Homo sapiens: one gene and its partners. The protein of the gene in region 4 purifies or fractionates together with the protein of the main gene of each other region. This does not show direct contact. Each region holds a gene or a part of one and is shown on either strand. Other genes may lie near its edges. The genes, in order: ZMYM3, ETF1, NCAPG, BZW1, KDELR1, PREX1 and RNF138.

The links.
Region 1: the proteins of BZW1 (region 4) and ZMYM3 fractionate together in Homo sapiens (co-fractionation; one large-scale study listed by BioGRID). This does not show direct contact.
Region 2: the proteins of BZW1 (region 4) and ETF1 fractionate together in Homo sapiens (co-fractionation; one large-scale study listed by BioGRID). This does not show direct contact.
Region 3: the proteins of BZW1 (region 4) and NCAPG fractionate together in Homo sapiens (co-fractionation; one large-scale study listed by BioGRID). This does not show direct contact.
Region 5: the proteins of BZW1 (region 4) and KDELR1 purify together in Homo sapiens (affinity purification with mass spectrometry; one large-scale study listed by BioGRID and IntAct). This does not show direct contact.
Region 6: the proteins of BZW1 (region 4) and PREX1 purify together in Homo sapiens (affinity purification with mass spectrometry; one large-scale study listed by BioGRID and IntAct). This does not show direct contact.
Region 7: the proteins of BZW1 (region 4) and RNF138 purify together in Homo sapiens (affinity purification with mass spectrometry; 3 studies listed by BioGRID and IntAct, with this or other methods). This does not show direct contact.

Annotation. Positions count from the first base shown.
Region 1 is NC_000023.11:71,244,141-71,247,640, reverse strand, and holds part of ZMYM3 (zinc finger MYM-type protein 3), read left to right. Parts: intron 1-130; coding exon 131-296; intron 297-948; coding exon 949-1,046; intron 1,047-1,128; coding exon 1,129-1,288; intron 1,289-1,542; coding exon 1,543-1,655; intron 1,656-1,798; coding exon 1,799-1,973; intron 1,974-2,155; coding exon 2,156-2,302; intron 2,303-2,747; coding exon 2,748-2,851; intron 2,852-3,170; coding exon 3,171-3,339; intron 3,340-3,500. UniProt on the Homo sapiens protein: Plays a role in the regulation of cell morphology and cytoskeletal organization.
Region 2 is NC_000005.10:138,533,237-138,536,736, reverse strand, and holds part of ETF1 (eukaryotic peptide chain release factor subunit 1), read left to right. Parts: intron 1-3,500. UniProt on the Homo sapiens protein: Component of the eRF1-eRF3-GTP ternary complex, a ternary complex that mediates translation termination in response to the termination codons. The eRF1-eRF3-GTP complex binds to a stop codon in the ribosomal A-site.
Region 3 is NC_000004.12:17,841,979-17,845,365, reverse strand, and holds the end of NCAPG (condensin complex subunit 3), read right to left. Parts: exon of another isoform or gene 3,057-3,387; coding exon 2,987-3,056; exon of another isoform or gene 2,065-2,986; coding exon 1,941-2,064; 3' UTR 501-1,940; downstream 1-500. UniProt on the Homo sapiens protein: Regulatory subunit of the condensin complex, a complex required for conversion of interphase chromatin into mitotic-like condense chromosomes.
Region 4 is NC_000002.12:200,818,410-200,821,909, forward strand, and holds part of BZW1 (eIF5-mimic protein 2), read left to right. Parts: intron 1-345; coding exon 346-492; intron 493-1,572; coding exon 1,573-1,711; intron 1,712-2,773; coding exon 2,774-2,896; intron 2,897-3,500. UniProt on the Homo sapiens protein: Translation initiation regulator which represses repeat-associated non-AUG (RAN) initiated translation probably by acting as a competitive inhibitor of eukaryotic translation initiation factor 5 (EIF5) function.
Region 5 is NC_000019.10:48,385,314-48,388,551, forward strand, and holds part of KDELR1 (ER lumen protein-retaining receptor 1), read right to left. Parts: intron 1-3,238. UniProt on the Homo sapiens protein: Receptor for the C-terminal sequence motif K-D-E-L that is present on endoplasmic reticulum resident proteins and that mediates their recycling from the Golgi back to the endoplasmic reticulum.
Region 6 is NC_000020.11:48,626,376-48,628,999, reverse strand, and holds part of PREX1 (phosphatidylinositol 3,4,5-trisphosphate-dependent Rac exchanger 1 protein), read left to right. Parts: intron 1-1,036; coding exon 1,037-1,139; intron 1,140-1,384; coding exon 1,385-1,452; intron 1,453-2,624.
Region 7 is NC_000018.10:32,098,374-32,101,873, forward strand, and holds part of RNF138 (E3 ubiquitin-protein ligase RNF138), read left to right. Parts: intron 1-3,500. UniProt on the Homo sapiens protein: E3 ubiquitin-protein ligase involved in DNA damage response by promoting DNA resection and homologous recombination.

The DNA of each region.
Region 1 (3,500 bases), on a different chromosome or scaffold from region 4:
GAGGGCAGCCAGCCTTCCATCTCTAAGCTGGCCCGATCTCCAAGGGGAGGAGCATGGCTTATCCCGGGGGAAAGAAAGGGCCCAACGCATTTTAGGGAGGCAGGTCTGACCATCCTTTTGACATCCTCAGGCTGCCCGGTGCCATGCGTGTAAGCGCCAGGGGAAGCTGCTGGAGACCATCCACTGGCGTGGGCAGATCCGTCATTTCTGCAACCAGCAGTGTCTTCTGCGTTTCTATAGCCAGCAGAACCAACCCAACCTGGATACCCAGAGTGGGCCCGAGAGCCTCCTGAACAGTGAGTCCCAGGCAGGGGGTACACTCTGTTAGAGGGAGCCTGGACTCTCCTAATCCTAAGCCTAGCCCCTTTCTCCTTCCTCTTGCGTTCAGCTCACCCCTGGCCAGATAGGGTGCTAGTACTGTGAACTGTATTCTCTTTTAGCTTCCGAACCCTGCAGGTACCGGGGGAGTCTTATTTAAAGCTTCTTGGAGTTAGCATCTACTGATTGTCTATGAAATATATATTGTTAGGGAGTGGGTGCCTTTCCTGGTAGGATGGAGCATATAGGGGTTATGGTTACGTTTCTGAGATAAGGAAATCTCAGCATAAACTCTACATTTAGTGAGACTGAAGACTGCTATTTCTAGAATGTTACCCCTGCCCCTCCACAACTCCAGGGATAACAGACTCTTCAGGCTATCTAAGTGGAAGGTCTCAAATGTGGGTTTTGGGGGAAAATGTAATGTTTCATTCTCCAGGAACAAATAATCTTTTAGGCTGCTATTGCTGGGGCATAGAGGAGACTAGATCTGGGATGGCAAGGGGGTCAAATCCTAGAAGTTCCCATCTGTATTTGGTGTACCTGTTAATGAAGCTCTCCTGGAACAGGGGTAAGGAAAATGGAGAGCTAGTCCCTTGGATGAGAGCATTCATTTGTTTTGATCTACAGGTCAGTCTCCTGAGTCAAAACCCCAGACACCCTCTCAAACCAAAGTGGAGAACAGCAACACAGTGAGGACCCCAGAGGAAAATGGGAATTTGGGCAAGGTCGGGGCAAAAGCCAAGGGGGAGGATAATCTCAGAGGAGGGTACGGCGGTTGGTGGCACAAATGTTCCTCTGTCTTTGCAGATCCCTGTGAAGACCCGATCAGCTCCCACTGCTCCCACCCCTCCACCCCCACCACCCCCAGCAACACCCCGCAAAAACAAGGCTGCCATGTGTAAGCCACTGATGCAGAATCGGGGCGTCTCCTGCAAGGTGGAGATGAAGTCCAAAGGAAGTCAAACAGGTGAGCCAGGGTACCTCGATGCCACAGGCTGTATTCCAGAGTCCTAGGCCTGCCAGCCCTATGTCCGTGAGCTGGACAAGGGGATTTCTTAGGTAGCTGAAGCCTCATTCATATGGTTGTCCTAGAATCATAGAGGTGTCTTTCAGCCTTTGATTCAAGGGCAGTTTTGTGACACTGAGCATGTTAGAGCTTTTGGTGGGTCAGATGTGACCAGTCCAGCAGGGTCTCTGAGAAGACCCCTTTCTTATCCACAGAAGAGTGGAAGCCACAGGTGATCGTGCTGCCCATCCCAGTGCCCATCTTCGTGCCAGTGCCTATGCATCTGTACTGCCAGAAAGTCCCGGTGCCTTTCTCGATGCCTATCCCGGTGAGTTTCCCTGCCCTTCCTGGCTGGGTCCTCCTTTCCCCTTACTCTCATCAACTGTCCCCCTTCACTCATCATCTGTCCCCCCAACTTCCCCCCAACTGCTGGTGTGGTTCTTGGCATTTAGTTGGGATTCGTGCCTCCAGGTGCCTGTGCCCATGTTCTTGCCCACTACCTTGGAGAGCACAGACAAGATTGTAGAGACCATTGAGGAGCTGAAGGTGAAGATCCCTTCCAACCCCTTGGAGGCCGACATCCTGGCTATGGCAGAAATGATTGCAGAGGCTGAGGAGTTAGACAAGGCCTCATCTGACCTTTGTGGTATGCCATAGATGGTGGCGACGAGGGAGACAGGGTGCTACCAGCATGTCTCTGCCCGAGGGGGTGGTATTGGTGATCTTGGTGCCTAGTAGAATGGGAGGATAGTTGGGATCAGTCCCTGAAAGCTTGTGAGGGTGCTAGCAGGAGCTTGTAACCACTGAGCCAACTTCTCTGCTTCCCAGATCTTGTGAGCAACCAGAGTGCAGAGGGACTCCTGGAAGACTGTGACCTGTTTGGGCCTGCTCGAGATGATGTCCTGGCCATGGCAGTCAAGATGGCCAATGTCTTGGATGAGCCTGGGCAAGACTTGGAGGCAGACTTCCCTAAGAGTGAGTAAGATTGGAGCCATGCCCACTGAGTATGGTAGCATTTGTGCCATCAGGAAGGGAGTGTCCCTTGTGTCCCTGAGCATGACCCTGAAAAGTGTTCATTGTGATTCTAAGACGGAAGGTTCTCACAGGGAGCAGTGCCAGAGACACCAGGACAGGTGCACTCTTTTAGACTTCTGAGTCATGCTTTTTTTTTTTTTTTTTTTTTTTTAATTTTTAAGCTGAAAAAAAACATAAAATTTTACCATGTTCAACATGTTTACGGTTCAGTAGTTCACATTGCTGTGTTTTGCGTTTCTGTGCCTCTGAGCATGCTTTTTGGTATAGCTTTACTGGTTCCTTTGGCTCATCTAGTGTCAAGTGGGCAAGTAGCAGGGGTGGGGCAGGAGGGCTGCAGGGTTGAGATCTTAAGAAATTGATTTCTTCTTTCTTTCCTTTTCATTAGATCCTCTGGACATTAATCCCAGTGTAGACTTCCTCTTTGATTGTGGCCTGGTAGGGCCTGAGGATGTGTCTACTGAACAAGACCTTCCCCGAACCATGAGGAAGGTAGGGCTGGGGCTACTGTATGTACAAAAGAAGAATGGAGGCCCAAAGGGGAGATGATGCGAGAGCCAAGCCAGCAACCATAGTTTGACCTTCCCTAACCTCCTTTCTCCAACACTAGAAGTACTGAGATAAAGCCAAACTTTGCTCTCCCCCCATCTCACAAGGTCATCAAAGCTGTTCCTGGGGCTCTGTGCTATGGAAGCTTGCTGTGTGCTTACATCAGCCCCTGCCCCGGCCAGCAGTAAATATGGTGCTGACTAGCTTTCACCTTGCCTCTGGCCTTACCTCTGCCATGCCCCTGCTTTCTCTTCCCCTCCAGGGTCAAAAGCGGCTGGTGCTTTCCGAAAGCTGCTCCCGGGACTCCATGAGCAGTCAGCCTAGTTGTACCGGGCTCAACTATTCATATGGTGTCAATGCTTGGAAGTGCTGGGTGCAGTCAAAATATGCCAATGGAGAAACCAGCAAGGGTGATGAGCTGCGCTTTGGCCGTAAGTACTTGGGGATGGGGGGTGTGGGGAGGCAGGGACAGGGAGGAGGAGGGGAAAGGGGAGAAGGGGCTGGGCCTGTGATTCAGCTGAAGATGTCTAGAAGTGATAAGGGTGTGATCCCTTAAGGATGCCCTGTGAAGATGGGGAGGAGTTGTAGATTA
Region 2 (3,500 bases), on a different chromosome or scaffold from region 4:
TCTTCGATCCTATTTGAAGAGTAGGAAGGAGAAATTTGCCTTCCCACTGCTGGATCTGTTCAACTAAGAGGCTGGACAGTAGAAATTACTTCTCAGTCCAGCCTATTCTCTAGGGCTCTCAGAATAGAACCTTCTCCTAGGATACATTCTGTAGGTGTCTTTTAATTCTTCAGCAGCCTACTATCTTAGTGAGGGGGAGAAGGAATTAGGAAGGTTCAGGCTTTTTTTCCCCGGCAGGTTAGAAATTGAGAGTCTGAGGTTTCTCACTGGGTACTGTCCTCAGAGAGTATGATGAAGCTCCCTCTGATACGGTTTTATCTTATGCCATTTGACACACATCCTTGCCCACTCTCTTTACTCTTCTCACAATCCTTTCAGGTTCAGAGGACTTGACATTTTCAGGTGCCTGGCAACTGGTTCTTATCATACAGATAGCTCTGCATGTTGAGTTTGTACTCTTGTTTTCACATTTTCATTTGTTCTTCTAAGATCTCCTTTAGAAGAATGATCATAGTCAAAATAAAAGGTTCTTTTTGTTTTCCTGCTGTGTCTGTGACCTTATAAACTAGATTTTCCTCCAAAATACACATCTGGGTATATGAATATGAAGCCAGAAATGCACTTTTACTATTAACCAGTAAGCTAATGGGCTTCACCAAACATCTGCTGTGAGTTGGGCACTAGACATTTTGGAAGAAATATGTAATAAAATGAAAACATGATCTGCCACACAACCATGGAATGATAATATAAACCATTTTCAACTCCATATTAGTGAGTACAGAATAACACAGTACATGTTGAAGGGGATTTAGTATAAGCAGATGATTAAGGTCTTTTTTTTTTTTTTTTTTTTTTTTTTGAGGCGGAGTCTCGCTTTCCCGCCCAGGCTTGAGTGCAGTGGTGCGATCTCAGCTTACTGCAACCTCCACCTCCCAGGTTCAGCTCAGCCTCCCGAGTAGCTGGGATTACAGGTGTGTCCCACCAAGCCTGGCTAATTTTTTCTTTTTTTTTTTTTGAGACGGTCTTGCTCTCTTGCCCAGGCTGGAGTGCAGTGGCGTGATCTCAGCTCACTGCAACCTCCACCTCCCAGGTTCAAGCGATTCTCCTGCCTCAGCCTCCCAAGTATCTGAGATTACAGGCACCCGCCACCACAGCCGGCTAATTTTTGCATTTTTTAGTAGAGACAGAGTTTTGCCATGTTGGCAAAGCTGGTCTCGAACTCCTGACCTCAGGTGATCCGCCCGCCTCGGCCTCCCAAAGTGCTGGGATTACAGGCGTGAGCCACCGCGCCTGGCCGAAATTCATCTTTTATTAAAAGGAGGTTGCAGTGAGCCGAGATCGTGCCACTGCACTCCAGCCTGGGCAACATAGCCAGTCTCTGTCTCAAAAAAAAAAGCCAATTATTCATCCATGGGCTTCAGTTTCCCCATCTGCTTCATGGGGGAACTAATGCTTTCTTCTTCTTCTTTAAAAAAGGTAACATTGGCTGGGTATGGTTGCTCATGCCTGTAATCCCAGTACTTTGGGAGGTCTAGGCAGGTAGATCACTGAGGTAAGGAGTTCAAGACCAGCCTGGCCAACATGGTGAAAACCTGTCTCTACTAAAAATAAAAAAATTAGTTGGGTGTGTTGGCACATGCCTGTAATCCCAGCTACTCGGGAGGCTGAGGCAAGAGAATCGCTTGAACCCAAGAGGCGGAAGTTGCAGTGAGCCAATACCAGCCTGGGCTATAGAGGGAGACTCTGTCTCAAAAAAAAAAAAAAAAAAGAAACTAGTTTTCTGAGGATGAGTAAGCATACATTTGACCCCCCCCCTTATAACCTTATAACAGCTCTGTGAGGAAAGCTATTATTGCCATTTCATGGATGAAGAAATTAAAGTACATACAGGGAGTAAATAGCTGCCTAATATCACAGCCTTTAGTAAGGGTCAGTGCCAGATTCTGTACTCACTTTTCTGATTTCAAAGCCTGTGGTGCTAATTTGTACAACACTACCTTGCCCTTTGGCAAGTATTTCTTTTGCTGAATAGAGACGTCTCCCATTCCCTTCTGAAAGGAAGACTCTTGTCCATGGAGATTTGTAATTTAGTAGGAGGAGCAGGTGTGCTGAGACTCAGGTGCAAAGATTTAAAAGAAAACAGACATGCTATTTCCACCCTAGGAAGAACTTGGATACTGAACATGTTTATTCTTGACGAGCATCAGTGGAGAGAGAAATAACTTGTTGCAAAATCCCTCCCCAGGAGCTCATTCGTATATTAGAAAGATCTAAGTAGTGAAGTAATGAATCCCGAACACTGGTTGTGATTGCAGTCTCTTGCTTTGCACTGTTGTAAGAACACTAGAGAAATTTTCCAGCTTCAAAGCTGCTTCCTGGTGGAATATTCCACTGGGTTTGTGAAGATCTTTTAATTTTTCTTTTTAAGACTAATAATGCCTATCATTGTAGAAAAAGTGTACACACTCTACCAGATGTGTACATTTTTGTTTTAGATGACTGAGTAAATCTTTGTTCTCTGGGGGACAGAAAGCTAAAATGAACCTTTGTGAACTTTATTCTGAAAATGTTTGGACATCTGAGTTATTCTGTACCCTAGGGTGGAGGTTGCTGTAATGTCTCAGTAAGTTCCGGTCTTGGTATTTCTCCCATTTGGTAATAGCATCTGACTCTAAGGTCAATTGCATAAACTAATTTCAGGTAACTTTCCTAGTCCCTTTGAAGGGTAACAGAATCATCCCTCCTAATTTGATAGTCTAACTAAACCTTTTATAAAAGGCAGCCCCATCCACCTCCTAACATGCCTCATAGATGGTAGTAGCAGAGGGAGTGGGGTGGCATTAATGTGAGGATCAACAAAATTAAAATGACACTTCATAAGGGTTGGTTTTGTTTAGTGCTGGTTTTCTTAAGGTAAACGCCTAATATAGTATGATGGTTTGAACTTTTAGGTGCAGTGAAAGATGGGGACAGTTAGTCAATTTAAGGCACATTAGTTCCTCTCCAAGGACTGACAATTTGTTGTTGGTTTTTGTTTTGTTTTGTTTTTGAGGTGGAGTCTTGCTCTGTCTCCAGGCTGGAGTGCAGTGGTGCGATCTTGGCTCACCGCAACCACTGCCTCCCAGGTTTAAGCGATTCTTCTGCCTCAGACTCCCAAGTAACTGGTACTACAGGTGCGTGCCACCACATCCAGCTAAGTTTTGTATTTTTAGTAGAGACAGGGTTTCACCATGTTGGCCAGGATGGTCTCGATCTCTTGACCTCGTGATCCGCCTGCCTCGGCCTCTCAAAGTGCTGGGATTACAGGCGTGAGCCACTGTGCCCGGCCAGATTTTTTTATTGGTATTTTATTTGGTAGTTTAGAATAAATCTCTGGTGTTTGCTTAAAAAAGAGTATATAGAGATGATGGTAGGAATTGGCCATTTATTCATTTTTCAAATGTTTGAGCACCACTATGTGCTAAAATGATTTTTGCCCTCAGGATGCTTATATACAC
Region 3 (3,387 bases), on a different chromosome or scaffold from region 4:
ACCTGACCCATGAGCAGTTGTAAAACAGGTGGATACCAACTACCTCGAAGCAAATTGGTGAAAGAAAAGGCAAAGGTATCTCTTAGAAGTAAATCTCCTTCAACGTTATATATGTACAGAAGAAAAAAAGTTGATCATAGCTTTTTGTCAAGTAGCATGTTTCCCATTCACAGGAAAATGTGAGCTTATCAGTTCTTTCTCTGTATTTTAAATCTAAGTCTGTGGGCTTTAAGAGCAATGGCACAATTGCATGTTTACTGTTCAGCAAATCTGTGCCTCTTGATAGAGAAAAATACTATGTGGTTTCTGTAAGTTACCAGTTTTGAATGAAAAATGGTAAATGGATTTACATCTGTTTTATTGTACCTTAGCCTTTTATTTTAAAGTTAAAGGGATGACTTTTAAAAGCAGGACATTCCCTACCTTTAATAGTGCAAAGCACAGTTTCAGCAATGGCTACATGACTATGTCTAAAAACTGAATACTCAGAATACTAAAGGTTTGGTGCTTAAATTTATTTTTCCCATGCCAGAGAAAGCAAGCTTTGGTATGGTAAACCACATGAGAACATGGCTCCTTTCTTTTTGGATAGCCTGGCCATGTGTGAATGGGATTTTAGCTTATTATGTTTCTAAGACTTTTCCTTACAGCACACTTAATGTACCTTTTCAGTCCTTCTCCCAACCCCCTGCAAATTGTCTTTAAAACAACAACACATAAGGAATCTGAAGCACAGGAGAACACAGAGCCAACAAACAGAATGAAGAACAATCATCTATTTTTAACTGACTTTCTATCATTACCATTTTTCCTTTTGCTTAATAACTATCTTGCTTTGAAACTTTGACTCCTTTTATAAGTTCTATGAGGCACATATGTATAGCAATTTGGTTCTAAAAACCAGTGATCTTACTTTAGCTCCATCTTAAAATTTCACCTTAAGTAAATGGCCTCTAGTAGATGATAAGCCTAAAAAAAGCACAATTATTAAAACAAACAGATCCATGTTAGGACATTTCTGAATAATAAAGAGAAAAGGTGTTTCGTTGGGTATTGCAGAAAAGAGGACCAATTTCATATAGTACAAGTTTCGTAAGTCAGGCCAAGTGTCAATTTCAAAAGACAAGAAATGAAATTGACAGTGAATAGTGCTCATAAATTGGTAGCGTATATAAAGAGAAGTTCCTGTCACATTATATTCCCACTAGAATTATTATCCACAGTAAATAAATATTATTTTGTTATGCCAAAAATATAGCGAGCAGCTTCATGGTTAATAATACATTTATGTTGACACCTCCCTAATCCAGGAAACATTCACAAACAAGGACTCCCATATACAAATACTTTAGGAAGAGAGATTTCCCAGGCAGATATCACCAAAAATGTTTTCACTGTAGGAATCACAAAATAAGTTTTTGTCAAAATAACTGTTGTTGAACGTTATACTGGTCTTCCTCACTGGTGATTGATAAGCTCCTTTCTAGCCAGTTTGTGGTACTTCCTTCATTTTCCCTAGAAATGTTACTTGTTAAATGTGTCCTCAGGCGGTTTCATCTTTGTTGATTCTGCCCATCTAAGTCATAAGCTTCTCAAATGCAAGCTACTAGCTAGTTACACTTGTAAGTTTTCCATAATGACATGATTTTAAACATAAAGAGTTCATAAGAATCACTTGGAGAGACTATTTAAAAATGAGATTCCTAGGCCCACCTCAGATTGTGATAAATCTGTGTGACTGACTGATGCACACTTTTTCTGGACTATAATAACTGATGCTGCTCTACTGCTTTAATACAGGCCAAAGTAACGTGGAAGCGCACAGCAGAAAATCTTCAGAAAGACATCAGGTTTGTTCTGATTTTGACAAGGGTAACTTCTTCTTTATTAAAGCAAATAACTGGACATAATCTTAAAGGATTCCACCTCCATCGTCTTTCCTAACTTAGATCTTCATTGAGAAATTGGGCAAGGTTAAGTTTACTTTTTTCTAGTGCTGCGGTTTTGGCTCGTCTTGGTAGTCTCATCTTCATTTCTGATTCTGGTTCTGGAACTTCATGATCACTAAATAGATGTTGAAAATACACGAATTTAGATACAAGCTTTAAAACCAGTTTATTTATAAATAAAACTTTTTTGTTTCTGACTCACATTCTATCAGTGTTTAATTGATAGCCTGATTCCATTGACTTAGCTTAAAACTAAAATCTCAATGTCAAAAAAACACTGACTTGGCTATCTAGCAAAGTGAATCAGGGAAAATCTAGCTAATGATTTTATATACTATAACAGAACCTGGTGTTATACAGGAAAAAAAGCCACAAACTTGTAATGAAGCTTGTAATTAAACGAGGACCATAACTGTCCAAAAGAGATTTCTTTGAAACTCAAGAAGTGACAAAAAAATTAAGTTCTCTCTCTTGATTTAAGCAATAAATTCCAAAAACATAGTAAAAAACAAGTTTCCCCCCAAAAAAGACAAATTTAATCAACAGTGTAAAACTATGTACTGAAAATACACACAATACAATTTTGCAAATGAATACAAGACAGCTACCAACTTTCAGCTCTAACAGTGGCTTGACTGACAGAAGCCAAAAATAAAACACTCTACCACACAATATACCCAAATTATAGACAGAATTATTCTATCAGTATGTAAGTGTAGAGAACCCAAATATTATCAAAATCAAGAGTTTGCTAACTGAAGATCAAAGAGGAGTCACATCATGTAATTAAAAATTGAAACAACATATTAAAGATAGTACTAAAGACCATGCCAGCTAATAGGCAAAAGCAAACACGCCGTAAGAAGTCAAATGCTCTTGATGATGGAATTTTAGACTATATACCTAAGACAGCTATTTATAGTTTTCACTATCTTGTTATATATTCTCTCTCATTCGCAAGAAAATTAGTTTTTTTCTACTTGTAGAAATAAAAAGTGAAGATAGGCCTCCATATATTCTAGACATGCATGACATACCTTTCAGAGTCGGCTTCAGCAGTCTGACACCTCCTGTTCGTCCTAGCTGAAACTGTCACTTTTCTCTGTCCTTGAAGATAGTATAATTCATTATCAGGATTTATTATCAGTTGCTTTTTGTTTTTAATCTAGTTTCTAGGCTAACTAAATCCTTTGTCTTCAACACAACAATCCTTTCAACACATGTATCTCCTACTTGTTCTAGCCATCTTGGTACCAGTTATCACTGCCACAGAAAAAGGAACCCAAGCAAGATTAAAACTTAATTTATTTTGTAAGCACTAATAATGAGTAAGGGAAAATAAGGAAATTTCAAGCAAGTTAAAAGAAGGCAAATTTTAGTTCAATGTATTTGAGGACAGTATATGAAAAATGTGTTATAATGAAGTACCTCTATTATT
Region 4 (3,500 bases):
ACCGTCTTTTTATGGCTAAGCTTCTGGCATAGAGATTTTCACTAATTTGAGGAACTTACTTCACCAGGATGAGATTGAGTTAATAGTAACAGGATGTTATACTGGAACTTTGCCTCATTCTTTTGCATATGCTTCTTCAGTGCCTGACTGAGGCCCAGAAATACAAGAGACTGGAGCTCAGGGCACCTTTCAGTTGTAAAGGTCTCTTTTTATATGTGGTACACATGTGGTTGCCAGTTGCATGGAAAAGGAGTTGTTAGTTTTTGTTAAAGGTCTAAACTTGATGTGTGAAGTATGTACATAATCAAAACTGACTTCTGTTACTAAATTTGGATTCATTTGCAGATAATTTTATATGTCAAGGAGGAGATGAAAAAAAACAACATCCCAGAGCCAGTTGTCATCGGAATAGTCTGGTCAAGTGTAATGAGCACTGTGGAATGGAACAAAAAAGAGGAGCTTGTAGCAGAGCAAGCCATCAAGCACTTGAAGGTATTAGAACTATGCCTTGACAAAACAAACTATTCTGCTTTCACGTGGTGATAAGTGAACTGTGACTATATTTTTCTAAGAGGATTTATCACATCCTGTGGTTCCTAGGGATGGCCCACCAGTAAATAAACAAATAGTAACATTAGCTATTGATGATAATGCTCTGAATTGGGCTGTGGTTCACAGGTTAAAAACAAGAATATGGCCTGGCCAGGCACAATGGCTCACGCCTGTAAACCCAGCACTTTGGGAGGCAAGGGCAGGAGGATTGCTTGAGCTCAGTTTAAGACGTGCCTGGGCAACATAGTGAGACCTCATCTCTACTAAAAATCACAAAAAATAGCCAGTCGTGGTGGCGCATGCCTGTAGTCCCAACTACTCAGGAGGCTGAGGCAGAGGATCTCTTGAGCCCTGGAGATCAAGACTGCAGTGAGCTTATGATGGCTTTGTCAGACAAAGCCTGGGTGACAGGGTGAGATCCTGCCTCAAAAAAAAGAACATGATGAAAAGGAACTTCAGCTTGTAATTAGATGTTTGCTTTTGAAGGGGGTATTGGAAAATAGGAATTTTTCCCCCCCTCTAAAATACTAATATTGTTTGACATTTACTTGGACTACTTGGTATAGTATTGTTTATTTTACTTAGCTACTTAGATTTTCTGCTTTTTTTTTTTTCTCTTGAGACAGTCTCACTCTGTCACCCAGGCTGGAGTGCAGTGATGTGATCTCAGCTCACTGCAGCCTCCATCTCCTGGGTTCAAGCAGTTCTGCCTCCTCGGCCTCCCAAGTAGTGCCTGGCTAATTTTTGTATTTTTAGTAGAGACGAGCTTTTACCATATTGGCCAGGCTGGTCTCGAACTCCTGACCTCAAGTGATCCACCCGCCTCGGCCTCCCAAAGTGCTGGGATTACAGACGTGAGCCACTGTGCCCAGCCTATTTTTTAAATTTCTGGTAAATAAGTTATAGTTTGCAGTGATTATAAAAGATGAGTTAAGTTCTATATTGTCTGTATTGTAGGAGTTTTGTAATGGATGGTTATTTGTAATGAATGACTAAATCTTTTCTCTGTTCCTTTAAAAGCAATACAGCCCTCTACTTGCTGCCTTTACTACTCAAGGTCAGTCTGAGCTGACTCTGTTACTGAAGATTCAGGAGTATTGCTATGACAACATTCATTTCATGAAAGCCTTCCAGAAAATAGTGGTGCTTTTTTATAAAGGTAATTTAGATTTTGAATTTTGTAAATAACACTTAATAAAAACCCTTATAAACACAAAATTATCCAAATGATGAGTTATCTGGACATCAGCTCCCTGAAATATTTTACTTCTAGTTATGAGTCACCTCTGATTAAATTGGGTGCTTTTTAGTGCACTGATACTTGTTTAAAACATCTAAACCCTATTCACAAGTTGAAGTATGAAATCTAAAGCCATCATTATGCGTCCTCAAACTTGCCTCCTATACTCTTAACCAGGTATACATTCCCAAAGTTCAGCTAGGTGTGGTGGCTCATACTTGTGACCCCAACACTTTGGGAGCCTGAGGCTGGAGGATCGCTTGAGCCCAAGAGTTCAAGACCGGCCTGGACTGCATAAGGAGACCTCATCTCTACAAAAAAAATAAAAAATTAGGCAGGGAATGGTGGCGCAAGCCTGTAGTCCCAGCAACTCAGAAGGCTGAGGTAGGAGGATCACTTGAGCCTAGGAGGTCAAGGCTGCAGTGAACCATGATTGTGCCACTGCACTCCAGCAGCCTAGGCAACAAGTGAGACCCTGTTTCAAAAAAAAAAAATCCCCAAGTCCCTTTTCCAGACAGTCTGTAGTCTTAGCTATGTAGTCATAGCTCTGGAGTCTTCAGCCTGTGTGAATCCTGCTTCTGTTCATCTTACTCCCCCACCCAGTGTTGACTTTCCGTAGTCCTTCAAGACCAGTTCAGAGTGCTTCTATAGCAACCCCAATTTCAGTTATATTGTTCCCTTTTCTCCTGATCCCAATTTTAGAAACCTGGTCTAAAGTGGCTAGTAAAGACAAGACCTCTGTTGGGAGAAAATCCATTGCAGTTGGTCATAACACTTTGAAATTCTGCACTAATCAGACCAGTCTTGATCCCGTTGAGTGTAGTTGGTATGCGCACATGTATTATTATCTTCCATTTCTCATGGATGTTTTTAGCTTTTCAGCAGTTTGTTTGCTAAGCAGGCATTTGCACATTAGGTGGTGGTTCTAACGCTGAGTAGAGTATATTAAAACTCCCTTAATGCAATGAGTTTTCTTTCCAGCTGAAGTCCTGAGCGAGGAGCCCATTTTGAAGTGGTATAAAGATGCACATGTTGCAAAGGGGAAGAGTGTTTTCCTTGAGCAAATGAAAAAGTTTGTAGAATGGCTCAAAAATGCTGAAGAAGGTAAGGATTTTCCTTTGTGTGGTTTGTTTGGTAAAGCTAATTTTAATGTGGCCATAATATATCTTCACACATGCTTCCTTCTTTCTGATGCCATTTTGTACCTGGAGTAGAGATTTTTGTTATAAGGCAGGTGGCGAAAGCTAGAGTTTAATTATTATAGTATATTTATGGCTCAGCCATAATAGTAAATGTTCTTCATGAAATGGAAAATTTTGAGAATATTTAATGTTTATAAATTTGTGGATTTCTTTTCTTTTTTTTTTTAATTAAAAATATAGAGACAGAGTCTCACTATGTTGCCGATGCTGGTCTTGAACTCCTGGGCTCAAACAACCTTCCTGCCTCAGCCTCACAAAGTACAGGGATTGCAGATGTGATTGCACCCAGCCAAATGTTGGGATTTCCAAGTGAATGCTTTTGAATATCTGCCTCATGTAAATAGGTTATTAATAAAATTCGTTAACAGCTTCAAAGTTACATGGAGGCTGGGTGTGGTGGCTCACGCCTGTAATCCTAGCACTTTGGGAGGCTGAGGCGATCAGGTCATTTGAGGCCAGGAGTATGAGGCCAGCCTGGACAACATGGGAAACCCAGTCTCTACTAA
Region 5 (3,238 bases), on a different chromosome or scaffold from region 4:
GGGACCCTCCCTGGCCATCCTTCCCCCAGGACTGTCACATCACCCCATCTTATCTCCTTCCTGGCCACTCGCACCAGCAATTGAGCTCTGTGAGGGCTGGGATCCTACTTCTTGTTCACCCCGTGGCCCTAGCACCTAGCACAGTTCCTGAATGAGTGAGGAAATGGGAGTTAGCATCTATAAAGGGGTCCCCATGTGCTCAGCACAGGCCACCATTTAGGGAGCACTGACAACCATCATTCATGAGCAGGACAGGACATCATGGGACAGGGAAGAAGACATCTGCCAGCCCCCTTTCAGTCCCCAGCTCCCTGAAAGTGCCACCTGGGGTGATCTGTGATCTGCAGACACACTGAAACCTCAGAGAGCAAAGCCAGGTGGCAGGTGTGGCTCCTTGGTTGTCTTGGTTTGTGGAAGGAAGGTGGGGGGCACCAGGACCTATTCATAACAACTCATGCTTTTCTAGCATTTACGACATCCAAGGCATCGCTCCTTAGGGTGTTAACTGGCCTGAGCCTTAACCCCATGAGGTAGGTACTGTTGTCATTCCCATTCTACAGATGAGGAAACTGAGGCCCAAAGGATAAGAAACGTGTCCAGATTCCCACTGAAGCACGTAGAGTCCAGGACCTGCTCCCAGAATCATCCAGAATCCTCCAGGGAGGCTCTCGTGAAGCCAGGTTAGTTGATGCTGCTGGGAAACGAACCCATTAAATTGATGCCCATTCAACTCTCACCCCTGGGGTTGCCCTTAGGGAACAGAGTCACCGTTTAAAGAGAGACAGAAGGTCTGTTGCTTTTTTTTTTTTTTTTTCCTGAGGCCGAGTTTCACTCTTGTCACCCAGGCTGGAGTGCAGTGGCGCGATCTCGGCTCACTGCAAACCTCCACCTCACGGGTTCAAGTGATTCTCCTGCCTTAACCTCCCAAGTGGCTGGAATTATAGGCACTCACCACCACGCCCTGCTAATTTTTGTATTTTTTTAGTAAAGACAGGGTTTCACCATGTTGGCCAGGCTGGTCTTGAACTCCTCACCTCAAGTGATCCACCCACCTCACCCTCCCAAAGTGCTGGGATCACAGGCGTGAGCCACTGCGCCCAGTCTTGCATTTTTATCTATTCCATGCTGTTTGAATTTTTTTTTTTTTTTTTTGAGATGGCGTCTTGCTCTGTCACCCAGGCTGGAGTACAGTAGCACGATCTCAGCTCACTGCAACCTCTGCTGCCCGGGTTCAAGTGATTCTCCTGCCTCAGCTTCCCGAGTAGCTGGGATTACAGGTGCATGCCACCATGCCCGGCTAATTTTTGTATTTTTAATAGACAGGGGGTTTCAGCATCTTGGCCAGGCTGGTCTTGAACCCCTGACCTCGTGATCCACGATCCACCTGTCTCAGCCTCCCAAAGTGCTGGGATTCAGGCGTGAGCCACTGCGCCCAGCCTGATGTCTGAATTTTTAAAGAATATTTTCCTTAGGTCAGGCACGGCAGCTCACACCTGTAATCCCAGCACTTTGGAAGGCTGAGGCAGGTGGATCACTTGAGGCCAGGAGTTCAAGATCACCCTGGTCAACATAGCAAAACCCTGTCTCTCCTAAAAATACAAAAAAATTTTACCTGGGTGTGGTGGCTCATGCCTGTAATCCCAGCTACTCGGGACGCTGAGGCACGAGAATTGCTTGAACCTGGGAGGCAGAGGTTGCAGTGAGCAGAGATCGTGCCACTGCACTCCAGTCTGGGTGACACAGCAAGACTTAAAAAAAAAAAAAAAAAAAAGACGCCTGGGTTCTGGTCTGGCCTCCTCCACCTTCAGCAAGCCGCACTACCTCCCTCAGCCTCAGTCTCCCCATCTTCAAAATGGGTCTAGTAATCCCTAGTCAACAGGGCAGTTATGAGCTAAGTCAAGGGCTTGGATAAGTGATCCAAGCAAGGTGGTAACAATATGTTTGCAAAGTCCAGGGCCTGGAGCCAAGCCCAGGATTCCCACCACAGCATGATGCAGCCTCCCTCTGATATCTCTGACCCATGGGCCAAAGTCACCCTCTGTTGGATTTGTCTGGCCTATACAGTGCTTTTAGAGATATGTTTTGAAGGCCAGGCACGGTGGCTCATGCCTGTAATCCTAGCACTTTGGGAAGCTGAGATGGGAGAATTGCTTAAGACCAGGAGTTCAAGACCAGCCTGTCAACATGGTGAAACCCCATCTCTACTAGAAACACAAAAATTAGCCAGGCGTGGTGGCAAGCACCTGTAATCCCAGCTACTCGGGAGGCTGAGGCAGGAGAAACGCTTGACCTGGGAGGCAGAGGTTGCAGTGAGCCAAGATCGTGCCACTGCACTCCAGCCTGGGCGACAGAATGAGAGTCCATCTCAAAAAAGAAAAAAAAAAAAAAAAAAGAAATATAGTCTGAATCTGTGGCTAAAATTTTAAAATGAGACATCTTGCCTGAAAACTCCTGAATTATGGCTTCTGTTGAAAAGATCAGCACATCTGGCCACCCAGGCCTATCTTCCTATAAGGCAGGAGTGGGCACAGGTAAGAAAAGGTTACCCTGAATTTATGATTCCTGCCAGGCCCCAGGAGGCAAGAGATCGCAAACTTAGCACTGGCTCTCGCAAAATTCCTCCCAGGAGTTTGTACAGGTCCCAGCAAAACACCATGGAATAAAAATCATTAACAGCGAACATTTAAAAGTAAAAGTATCAGAGATGGGACTAAACACTTCAGTCATTGAACATTGATTGACACAGCACTTCCTACCTCATCCCAGATACTGTGCTTTATTAATACCAACCTCTCATTTGAACCCTATGACATAGGAACTGATTATCTCCATTTTACAGATGAGGAAACTGAGGCACAGGGTAGTTATGTGATTTGCCCAGAATCCCATAGCTGCTACATGGTAGAGGCAGGGTCCAAATCCTTACACTCTGATTCTAGAGTCTTTATGTGTTTTGACACCAGGCAGTGCTGCAAAGTCTCAGTAAATTCTCACAATGACCTGATCACAACTTTACAAATGTGGAAACCGAGGTACAGAGAGGTCAAGTCACATGCACGGGATCATGCTAATAGAAACTAGCAGATTTGGAGCCGGGCGCGGTGGCTCATGCCTGTAATCCCAGCACTTTGGGAGGCTGAGGAGAGTGGATCACCTGAGGTCAGGAATTCGAGACCAGCCTGGCCAATATGTTGAAACCCTGTCTCTACTAAAAATACAAAAAATAACCTGGCTTGGT
Region 6 (2,624 bases), on a different chromosome or scaffold from region 4:
CAGTGCCCTCCCAACCCTCTCTTCCTCTGCAGCCCTCACCCCCACTCCCCAGACAGCCTTCATTGGGGTATTTATTTCCTCCTTGGCTCCCTCAGGGCAGGGCTGGATCTGGGAGGGCAGGGGCCCCTTTTGTTCTCTGCTGTTCCCCAGAGGCTAGAGCAGTGCCTGGCCTGAGACAGGTGCTCAAGAAACATTTGCTGAATAAATGTTTCACGGGGCCAGTGCTCTCTGCCTCCTAGGTCATTGACGTTCCATGCAGATTAACTCCTTTCCGTCTTTCTCTACCAGTGCAGTAGTGGGGCCTATTTTAGGGGATCTCACCTAGGGGCAGTTTTATCCCCGGGGAACATTTGGCAATGTCTGGACACATTTTTGGTTGTCACAACTTAGGGGAGGGAGGAGCTCCTGGCCTTTAGTGGGTAGAGGCCGGGATGCTGCTCAGCTTCCTGTGGTTCCCAGGACAGCCCCTCCAGCTGGGCCAGGTCCTCTGTGCACCACCATGCTCCCTGTTTCATAGTTAATAGTATAGGGAGGCTGAGGTTAACTCAGCTACCCAGGGTCACAGAGGAGTTACATGGAGGGACAGGATTGGAATCCTAGAGGTCTTGCTGCAGAATCCACGTTCTAGAACTGTTGAGAAACCCAGAGAGGTGTGAATCGATGTGTCCATCTCAAACCCCACGGAGCCGACAAGTCGTGAGGCTCCCAGGGAGTCCCCCACTCACTCAGCAGATATTTACCGAGTCCTCCTCTGAGCGAGGCACTGGGAATGTCACAGGGAACTCAACAGGGCTTCTGCAGACGGGGAAGCACCAGAGTGCCTGCCAGTGAGGGTGGTGGCTGCCTGGAGGAAGAGGAGCAAGCGGGGAGGGACGGCAGGAGGAGGCGTTGCCGTGATGGTCAGGATTGGGTCTGGGAGGCCTCGGAGGGACAGGAAGTTGCCCCAGCTCTCACCCACTGTCCTCTGACTCCCGCTGTCCTCCCCCGACCCCTGTCCCCCCACCGCCAACCCGCTGTCCTCCCTCCCCTGCTGCAGGAGCACCCTGAGCGTGTCCCTGGAGCAGGCGGCCATCTTGGCACGGAGCCACGGGTTGCTGCCCAAGTGCATCATGCAGGCCACGGACATCATGCGGAAGCAGGTGAGGCCGCTTGGCCACAGGGTCCTCCAGCACCCTGGGCTGAGGGCGTGGCATGCTTGCAGCCAGGGTGGGATGAGGGGCTGGTAGCCACCAGCCCCAGACCTGAGCCTTCTCTGAATCTGGAGGGGAGCAAGGATCTTAGCTTCTGGGTCCTTGGGCTTCTGGGCCCCACCCCCACCCCCCAGTGTGCTTCCTCACGTGCCCTGAACCTGCAGAGGCCCCTGCCTGATGGTTCCTTCTTCCAGGGCCCAAGGGTGGAGATTCTGGCCAAAAACCTGCGAGTCAAGGACCAGATGCCCCAGGGTGCTCCGCGGTGAGTGGCTGCCTCGTCCGCCCCTTCCTGTCCACTCCCAGCTGGCGACCCAGGCCTGGCTTTGGCATCATGCTCCTGGCCTAACCCCTAATGCTCAGATGGGGCTTCCCCTCTCATTTATGGGGAACCTCTTTGAGGAGCAACAGACACAACTTTGTCACCTCCCAAAGGAGCTCCTGCTCCCACCGGGAAGATGAGCCCCCAGGTGTGCCGTGAGGCGGTGACTCTATGAGATCCTCCCACCTCACTACACTGTGCCCTCAGCCCCATGCCCTCTCAGCCCTGAGCCCCCGCCCCGTGCCCTCCACCCTGTGTCCCATGCCATGTGCCCCCCACCCCGTGCCCCCTACCCTGAGTCCCTGACCCCTGAGCGGCTCGCTTTAACCTGGGGTGGAATTAAGAATTCTGTGATTTTAGCTGATCCAACCTAAGCTAACCTTTTAGCCATTTACAGAAATGCGAACTGAACAGCAGCCTGGGCCCAGGCCTGCGATGCCTGATTTGCAGGAATGCTCTCTGTTCCTGCCGTCTTTGGCATGGGGAGTGCTGTTTCCTCCTGTCCTCCCACCCTGCCCTCTCTTCATGTGGTTTTCAGTCTTCCTCTTGGTGCCACATGTAGGCCCTTTAGGATCATGACGTTGTTTCCGTCTGATCCTCTCTCCATCTCCACAGCCCTAGTTTGCTGTCGTCATCTGCCCACAAGTTTTAAATAACTCTTGTTTTGAAATAATGTGACTCCCAAGAAGTTGTAAAAATAGTCCACAGTTCCATGGACCCTTCAGGCAGCTCCCCGCCAGCGGCAACGTCTTACGTAACCACAGAGCGCCGGCAACACCTGCTGCCAGTGGTGACGAGAGTCACTGTGCGTGCTGTGGCGCTGGGGGCTCCACACACACCTTGTTTGTGTCTCACGAGTGGCACGTGGTTCCTTTCAATACCTTCACGGCCTTTGCCCTGTGCCACGCACTGTCCAATTGCTTCCCCTCTGTGGACTCATTAATCCAAACAGCTGCCCTGTGAGCCAAGTCCGGCTGTCATCCCCACTTGGCAGGTGGGGACGCTAAGGCACAGAGAGGTTAAGTATCTTGTCCAATGTCACACAGCTAGTAAATGGAAAAGCTGGGATTCTGAACCCAGGCAGTCTGGGCGTGGAGTCCGAGCGCTGACCACAT
Region 7 (3,500 bases), on a different chromosome or scaffold from region 4:
CCTGGTCTCAAGCAGTCCTCCCACCTGAGCCTCCTGAGTAGTGGGGACTACAGGTGAGTGCCACAGCACCTGGCTTTGTAATTTTAACAGCTTTATTGGTATCTTGTTACTTGAGTAGTTATGCTCTAAGTATATACTTTAAAATAATTTTCTTCTTTCCTAAAATCTGTGCTATTTAATTATATAATAAAGGTTGAGGCCGGGCGCAGTGGCTCACGCCTGTCATCCCAGCACTTTGGGAGGCCGAGGCAGGCGGATCACAAGGTCAGGAGATCGAGACCATCCTGGCTAACACAGTGAAACCCTGTCTCTACTAAAAATACAAAAAAATTAGCCGGGTGTGGCGGCAGGCGCCTGTAATCCCAGCTGTTCGGGAGGCTGAGGCAGGAGAATGGCATGAACCCGGGAGGTGGAGCTTGCAGTGAGCTGAGATGGTGCCACTGCACTCCAGCCCGGGCGACAGAGTGAGACTCCGTTTCAAAAAAAAAAAAAAAAAGATTTACTTAATTTTAAATCTTGAGGACTAGTTTACAACCTTTGATTTTTTTTTTTTTTGAAGTTTTTTTGGGGAATGATCTCGATTATCGACTCGGAAAATAGATAGACTAAGTGCCAGATTTTAAATTATTTAATTTATACTGAAATTGGGAGCATGATGAGTGGGAATATTGTTTTTCCTCTCCCAGTGTTGTTGATTAGCCTTTTGTTGGGAGAATGCGTAATGGAAATTCGTCTAGCATCTGCTAGTTTAAAGTTGAGAGAAATGTAAAGAGACCTTTTTTGGTTATAGGGTAATGCCCTGTTCTGAAGATACGGGCCTTTTCAGGAACATGAAAATTAGTTTTAGTAATTCTTGATTTGTACCTTTTTCCTTCCTACTTCTGCTTTGTTTTGAAATAAGTTCTGTCTAGCACTTTGATCCATTCCAGCCCAAAGTGAGATGAGAATAATTCGTTTTATGTCTGAAGAAACATGCTTGGTTGTACAGAGGAAGGAACAGTAAAATTGGAGATAAGAGACCTGAATATCTCTATTTTATTTTATTTTTAGACAAAATCTCGCTCTGTTGCCCAGACTGGAGTGCAGTGGTGCAGTCTTGGCTCACCGCAACCTCCACCCATTGGGTTCAAGAGATTCTCCTGCCCCAATCTCCCGTGTAGCTGGAACTACAGGCATGCACCACTATACCCGGCTAATTTTTTTGTATTTTTAGTAGAGATGGTGTTGCACCATGTTGGTCAGGCTGGTCTCCAACTCCTGACCCCAAATGATCTGCCCCGCCTCGGCCTCCCAAAGTGCTAGGATTACAGGTGTGAGCCACTGCACCCGGCCATTCTTTGTACCTGTTATCACAGTTTGTAATCATAACATTTTTGGAATCAGATAATTTGACCAATGTCAGTTTCACTGGTTAGGCTGCAAGCTTTATAAAGAAAGCATCCAAGATCTCCTGTTACTTACTTAAGCCTACTAATATATCGTTTCACATATGAGAGTTTTTCCTGCCAGCTAAATTCTGACAAATGGAATTGCTGGGTCAAAGGGTAGATACAAACAAATATTTCTGATACATCACACAAGAATAATTGCAGCTCTAGTGAAGTGTCTTGTTCATGGAAAGTGCTCAAGGTTTTGATTTGAGAACTGTCAATTATATCTTTTGGTTAAGGGATTTAATACTTTTTAAATTAAGGTAAATTGGCATTCATTGCTTTAGCAAATATTAGGACTGCCTAATAGGTGCCTAGCACTGTTAGGTGCCAGGGATATTGTAAAGAGCAAATAGATAGGATCCCTGCCCTCTTGGAGCTGGGTGTTAGTGATTGAGATATATATATATATATATATAAAATCTTTGGTTGTACAGGGGAAGGAACAGTAAAATTGGACATAAGAGACCTGAATACCTCTATTTTATTATTTTATATATATATTTGAGACAGGGTCTTTCTCTGTTGCTCTGTTGCCCAGGCTAGAGTGCAGTGGCATGATCATGGCTCACTGCAGCCTTGACCTCTCTGGGCTCAAGTAATCCCCCTTTAGCCTTCCCAGTAGCTGGGACTACAGGCATGTGCCACCACCACACCCAACTAACTTTTTTTTTTTTTTTTTTTTTTTTGAGACGGAGTTTTGCTCTTGTTGGCCAGGCTGGAGTGCAATGGCGCGATCTCGGCTCACTGCAACCTCCGTCTCCCGGGTTTAAGCGATTTTCCTGCCTCAGCCTCCCAAGTAGCTGGGATTAAAGGCATGCGCCACCAGGCCTGGCTAATTTTGTATTTTTAATAGAGACGGGGGTTTCACCATGTTGGTCAGGCTGGTCTCGAACTCCCAACCTCAGGTGATCCACCCACCTCGGCCTACCAAAGTGTTGGGATTACAGGCGTGAGCCCCCGCGCCCGGCCTGTATTTTTTGTATAGACTGGGTTTCACCATGTTGGCCGGGCTGGTCTCGAATGCCTGAGCTCAAGCGATCTGCTCGCCTTGGCCTCCCAGAGTGCTGGGATCACAGGCCTGAGCCACTGCGCCTGGCCTGAGATATATTTAAATTAAAATAAATGCTCAGAAAAATGGTGTAATTACAAATGTATAGGTTTCGAGAGAGTATAAGAGAGGGATCAGATCTAGTGGGTGAGTATCGATGACCCTTTCTTTAGGAAGTGATATTGTTGCTGATATCTAAGAGAGATATAGGTATTAATTTGTGGAGGGCTGTGCTCGTGCATAGAACATTCTGGGGAGAAGAAACATTCTGGACAAAGGTCCCGAGGTAGGAGGGAACATGCAGGGCTTTGTATTTGAATGACAGAAACATCTTCTGGGCTTCAACCTCTTATAGGTTTCTTTTTTTTTTTTTTTTCAAAGACAGAGTCTGGCTCTGTTGTCCAGGCTGGAGTGCAGTGGCACACGCAGTCTTGGCTCACTGTAACCTCCGCCTCCTAGGTTCAAGCCATTCTTCTACCTCAGTCTTCTGAGTAGCTGGGATTACAGGCGTGCACCACCACTCCTGGCTAATTTTTGTGTATATATATATATTTTTAAATTAGAGTCAGGGTTTCACCATGTTGGCCAGATTGGTCTTGAACTCCTGACCTCAAGTGATTTGCCTGCCTCACTCTTACAGGTTTATTAACATTTTATTTTTTTAAGCCTTAGTTTCCTCATCTGTAAAATGAAGGAACTTATTAAGAAAAATTTATTTTTTTTTAAGAATTCAAGATCATGAATGGATAGTTTCTGGGATCCAGCCTAGCACCTAGCACATATTATGTACGCAATAAGTGTTAACTGCTATTTTCATAAATGTCATGTTGCTTTCCCAAAAATTGAGCTAATTTACAAAATGCCATTAGTACTATAAAAGTATATTTGTAATCCATCATCTTTGCCAATTTTGTTTTTTTAAGCATTTTTATGCTATTTTAATACAGTTCATAGTGGTGTCTAGAAGTCACATTAAAATGTATTTCTTTAGTTGCTAGCAAGGCTGCATGCATTTTTCC